Linked DNA regions of Homo sapiens. The protein of the gene in region 2 purifies or fractionates together with the protein of the main gene of each other region. This does not show direct contact. Each region holds a gene or a part of one and is shown on either strand. Other genes may lie near its edges.

What was found.
Region 1: the proteins of GSTZ1 (region 2) and KLHL24 purify together in Homo sapiens (affinity purification with mass spectrometry; one large-scale study listed by BioGRID and IntAct). This does not show direct contact.

The regions. Positions count from the first base shown.
Region 1 is NC_000003.12:183,682,821-183,685,019, forward strand, and holds the end of KLHL24 (kelch-like protein 24), read left to right. Parts: 3' UTR 1-1,699; downstream 1,700-2,199. UniProt on the Homo sapiens protein: Necessary to maintain the balance between intermediate filament stability and degradation, a process that is essential for skin integrity.
Region 2 is NC_000014.9:77,324,036-77,327,535, reverse strand, and holds part of GSTZ1 (maleylacetoacetate isomerase), read right to left. Parts: intron 2,998-3,500; exon of another isoform or gene 2,932-2,997; coding exon of another isoform or gene 2,914-2,931; intron 2,667-2,913; coding exon 2,615-2,666; intron 699-2,614; coding exon 631-698; intron 65-630; coding exon 1-64.

The sequences.
Region 1 (2,199 bases), on a different chromosome or scaffold from region 2:
TTAAATTGCTGTGAGAACCCATATATGAAAAGAGAGGAGTTGAATTGTGTGTGCCTTTTATGTCTTGAGATTTATATGTGGAAAAGACGACATCTACTTCAAACTGTATTTTTTTCGTTTTTTTTTTTTTTTGGGGAAGGGGGGAGAACGGGGTCTTGCTCTGTCGCCCAGGCTGGAGTGCAGTGGCGCGATCTCAGCTGACTGCAACCTCCACCTCCCGGGTTCAAGGGATTCTGCCTCAGCCTCCCGAGTAGCTGAGACCACAGGTGCGTGCCACCACACCCGGCTAATTTTTTTGTATTTTTAGTAGAGACGGGGTTTAGTAGAGACGGATCACTCCTGACCACGTGATCCGCCCACCTCGGCCTCCCAAAGTGCTGGGATTACAGGCGTGAGCCACCACCCCCGGCCTGTATTTTCAGAGAGGAGAGCTTGGTGTTTTTGTGGTGCCAAGTGGTAAGATAATGTCTCTTTGAGGCTTCCTATGGACTGCCTTTATTTTAGTAAACTCAAGACACCAGTTAACCTCAACAGAGTTTTGGCCTTATTAGAATTTGTTGTGCATCTTATTGAAAGCCAGGTTTACATCACCTCACCCCATTATTCTTTTTAGTTAAATAAATTTACCATGCCAAGTAACCAGAATGGAGCAAATTGGTTGATCTTTAAGGCAGTAGGTTTGACTAGCTAGCTATCATTATTGTCACATCTAATGCTAGGCACCAGAAACCATTTGAGCCAGGAGTGTGAATGAATAATTCCAGAGACACTTTAGACATTTTTTAATGTTTTATATGAACATTTTACATTTGTGTGATTGCCTTAGATATTAAATTTTCCTAGTGCTGATAAAAACAGCAACATTCATAACTTATTTTATATATTGTTCCAAAGAAAAGAATTTGTTTTAATGGTTTCAAAATAACTGCACCTGAATTTGTTTATGTGCCTTAAGTTCTCTAGTGCTATTTCAACTTTTTTTTCAATCTAAATGAAGCTTACCTTAGATAAGGTTCATATTTGTTTCCTATAGAGTAAATAAACTTCCCCTTCTTAAATTGTGTAATAAGCACCAACGTGTGGTTGCTTGGCAGAATGAGAATGTTAAGGGAGATTGTTGGATGTTTGGAGTTTCATTATATTTTTTGTTTTTATTTTTTGATACCTAGGTGCTTTTTAAAATATTCAGACAAATATCTATCTTACATTGATTAAACCCGTGTAAATTCATTTGCAGTATCTACATCGAATGTCAAAAAAGTATACTTATTTTTGTTCCATACTTATGTACAATTTTTTCCCTCTTCAGGCTTTTTCATTTACCTTTTTGAAAAAGCACTTACTCTCCCCTTCCCTATCACCCCTCCCCCAAGGTTTCTTTATTTAAATTTTTATTGAGAGTTGTTGGAGCTCTAAGACAATACAAATTTAGAGTTGAACAAAAGTATAATCTGCTTTACAACTAGTATAGACCTAAGGTCATTTGCTTTCAATTAGAGGCTCCAGAGTCTTCATAGTGGAAAGAATGCTTTGTATTTAATTGTTCTTAGTTAAGTTGTAGCACGTGAATACTTACTTACATGTTTTGTTTAAATATACTTCTTGCATAGTTTAATTTTTTAAAAGTTGTATCTAATAAAATGTCTTTTAACCATTATTACTTGACTATATGGTTGTATTAAATTTTGTTTACGAAAAATTTGTTGTTCTGTTTTATTTTAAGTATATTTAAGGGGTTGTGCAAAAAAGAGATGGGGAAAATACTGGATATATTAATATATGTGTGTATTTACTGGTATGTCCATAAAATAACTGGAAGGATAAATAAGAAACTGAAAATATTAGTGTGTAAGAGGAAAGGAAATGGTGGCTGAAGGACAAGTAAAAATGAAACTTTACTGCATACGTATATGTGTGTAATTATAAATACATATAAAATCAATTTTTTAGTCTGAAACACACGAAAGTATTCCCTATTCAAAAAAAAAAATTTTTTTTTTCTTTTTTTGAGACGGAGTCTCACTCTGTCACCCAGGCTGGAGAGCAGTGGTGCAGTCTTGGCTTACTGCAACCTCTGCCTCCTGGGTTCAAGCGATTCTCGTGCTTCAGCCTCCTGAGTACCTGGGACTACAGGTGCATGCCACCACGCCCGGCTAATTTTTCTTTTTATATTTTTAGTAGAGACAGGGTTTCACCGTG
Region 2 (3,500 bases):
TTCCATCAATCTTCAGGGTTGGCACCTGCTTCATAGGATTCAGTGCCTGGAAGTCCTTAGAAAACTGTGGAGACAAGGCCCTGGTGGGCTGGGTGGCCTGGCCTGAGTTGGCCAGAGGAAAGCCAAGCAAGCAGGAGAACCCCAGGCCTGCCACCCACCCCCATCTCCCTTCCCTGGGAAGGCCCTAAATCCTAGGCCCAGGGTAATCCCTGGGGGATCCATGCAGTCTCCCAAAGCCCAGCTGCTGCTGAGCCATAGGCTTCATCCTAACAGCCTGGCTATGGGCTTTCCCTGCATCTCACACCGTGGCCACCAAGGCAGCTCCTACCCTAGTCAGCCATCCAGAGGGCCCAGTATGGGGTGGGGACCCACTAGCCACCCACCCTCCCAGGGTCAGGCACTGGAGAGCCCAGGCTAGGGTACACAGTCTGGACCTGGGCCCTTCCCAGGCCTCCTGCTACTGCACACCTTGCCACCTTGTCCCACAAGGGAGAGCCAGCAGCCTCCTGCAGTGATAGTCCACAAGACACAGGTTCACTTCTCTGGGGCAGAGCCTCCCCTTTTTCCCCTGCCTGGTGCCTGTTCAAGGCCTCCAATTCCCACATTGTGGTCTGGGCACAGCCTTCTTACCTGTTGGCCCCCATCCTTTATGAGATTGATGGGCACCGTCTCGTAGTCGATGCCTTTCAAGGCCAGAGCTAGGAGAGACCGCACATAGCGGAGTCAAAGAACAGCCTCTCGCCGTACTCTTAAAGGAAAGAGCCCTTCTAAGGTGACATTAAGGCCAAAGAGGGGGAGGCTTCTCTAACACTTCTGGGTGGTCAAGGCTCACCGTGGCACTATCCCCTTCTCTCAGCTTTCCTTGTCACCACGTGCTCCCTACCCCAGATGCACGATGCTCTGCCTCACTCACCCCTGAACTCTTAGAGACCTCAAGATCTGGACCCCCCCAATGGGGCCCTCATGCCCCCTGGATGGTGATAAAGGTGTATGCCCTGGCACTCTGTGGGCTCCTGGAGTTCAGCAAGGCTGTGTTGTGTTTAACTCTGCCCCCCCAGGGCCTTAAACAGTGGTGACCAGTGTCTTGGTTGAAGACATGCAATTACTCCCTCAAGAAGGCAACTAAGGGCCAAGGGAAGGAGCTCAGGTGGCCACACACAGCACACACAGACAGATGGCACTCTTGTTCTGTTGGAGAAGAATCTCTTCCAATCTATTCTCTCTGTTCTCAGGGCTGTTTACTAGAGATTCTAGACAGGCATCAGGCTCTTTGGTGGCCTCAGAGCATTTGCCGTGACTCCAGTCACCAGATTTCCTCTCCATCCCTTTTGATAATTTCCCCTGGCAAGCTGAGGGTAAAAAAAACTTGGGTGGGTCAACACTAGTGGAGAAGACTGCGTGCGTGTGCATGCATGTGTGTATTACACACACTTGGGCATTCAAGTATGGTGATGGCCAATCTCAGGGAAGGGCAAAGGAATGAGGGGAGGAGGACCAGACATGTCATGGTGTGGAGAGCCTGGGCAATACCAGGCTCCTCCTAGTGTTGGTCAGCTCCAGTCTGGGGAGTGACAGTGTTTGGGGCTGGAGGAGACACCTGGAGGAGGGAAGGCCAAAGCACACAGGCCGTACAGACAGCACCTATATTGCTCCGGCTTCTGGCTCAGCCAGGGCAGAGGTACTGGCGCCCAGGGATGGGTTCATCTTCTTGGAGGAAAGTTTCTCCTGGCACCCAGTGCTCTTGCTTACTGATCCCAGCAAATACCAAGTGACTATGGGATGGAGGAGGGGTCACGGAGGATGGCTTTGCCTCCACACTCTGGAGGCAAGCTTCTTGGGTTCAAATTTCATCACAGTCATTTGCTAACTGTGTGGCCCTGGGCAAGTAACTTAATGGGCCTCTGGAGCCAGACTACCTGGTTCAAATTCCAGTTCTGCCTCTTAGTAACTGAAAGATCTTGGGCAAGTTACTGAATGTTGCCTGTTTTTTGTGCCTCAGCTTCCTCCTCTATACAATGGGGACAGTAATAATAGTACCTCCCTCCTAGGGTTGCTGAGGTTTAAATGGAATCAGGCACACAAAAGCACTCAGCACAGAGCTTTTCCTCAGTACAGGCTGCTTTGGTTATGACCTTTGCCAAAGGCTGTGTTAAGCCAAGGGAGGGAAGGGTCAAACAAGGACTAGCCACAGGGCCCTTGTTTCTGCTTTTCTGAAGCCTCCGAGGCTGATGCTGGCCCGTTCTGTTTGCTTTGCCAGTTCAAATAAAATAAGAACTGAGAAGGGCCAGCTGTTCCCCTGCCAGTTACCAGGGGCATGTGGATTTTGTGACCCTGCTTTAAACATGGTTGCCAAGGGGCTTTGGAGAGCAGTGTTGGGAGAAGTGTCAGTCCCAAGGGAAAAAACAACCCCCTTCCTCCCACCCTCACCCTGTGTTTCCGGGGTGGAGATGCCATGCAGGGATGGGGGTTCTAGGAGCCGGGGGATGCTGGTTGCTGGGGGTGAGGTCCTCTCTGACAGAGCAACCCTTCCATCCCAGGCCAGCTTTGCACCCGGGCTTATCCGCCCCAGTCCACCCCACTCCAGCACTCATCCTGGAGGAGGCACATCTCTTACCAATTCGAACTCTCCATGAGCAGGAGCTTCGGAAATAGGAATAGAGGATGGGCTGAGGAGAGAGAGGATGAAGGCGCGTGTTAACCCATGCTGGGTGGGCTCCAGCTTGGGAGGAGTCAACCATTTCTTCCTGTCCTGCCAGGCCTCCTCTCTCAGGCCTGCATCTGTGCAAATCAGGGCAGACTCCAAGCTCTCTGAGAGGCTCATGAGGTCCCTTGGCTCCAAAATTATGCTGGTTTGAGCTCCTGAGGTCCAAGAGGCCCCCAAAGGGGCAGCTAGCCTGAGAGTGCCTTCCATACCTTGCCAGACTCTGTCATGGTATCGTGGTGACCCTCAGCCTCCCAGGAAATGTCCCCTCTGGCACAGCTTCTGAGCAGGGAAAGGAAACCTAAAGGGGTGGATTTCAGGAGCCAATGGGGAAGCTGGGCTACCCAGGCATTGGGGGAACTTTGACTCTGGTCAGAAAGGGCATTTCTGGCCAGGCACAGTGGCTCACGCCTGTAATCCCAGCACTTCGGGAGCCAAGGTGGGTGGATCATTTGAGGTGAGGAGTTTGAGACCAGCCTGGCCAACATGGTGAAACCCTGTCTCTACTGAAAATACAAAAAAAAATCAGCCAGGTGTGGTAGTGGGTGCCTGTAATCTCAGCTACTCAGGAGGTTGAGGTAAGAGAATAGCTTGAACCTGAGAGGTGGAGGTCACAGTGGGCCGAGATCGCACCACTGCACTCCAGAGCGAGACTGCGTCTCAAAAAAAAAAAAAAAAAAAAGGCATTTTTTTCCAACTCGCAGGAAGTTTCTTACGCTCCTGCTGGGGCCAGGTTTGGTGTCCCCCCAACAGAGCGTGGCCTGGTTTTGATGCAGTATTTTGAGTGGTGGAGCGGGCT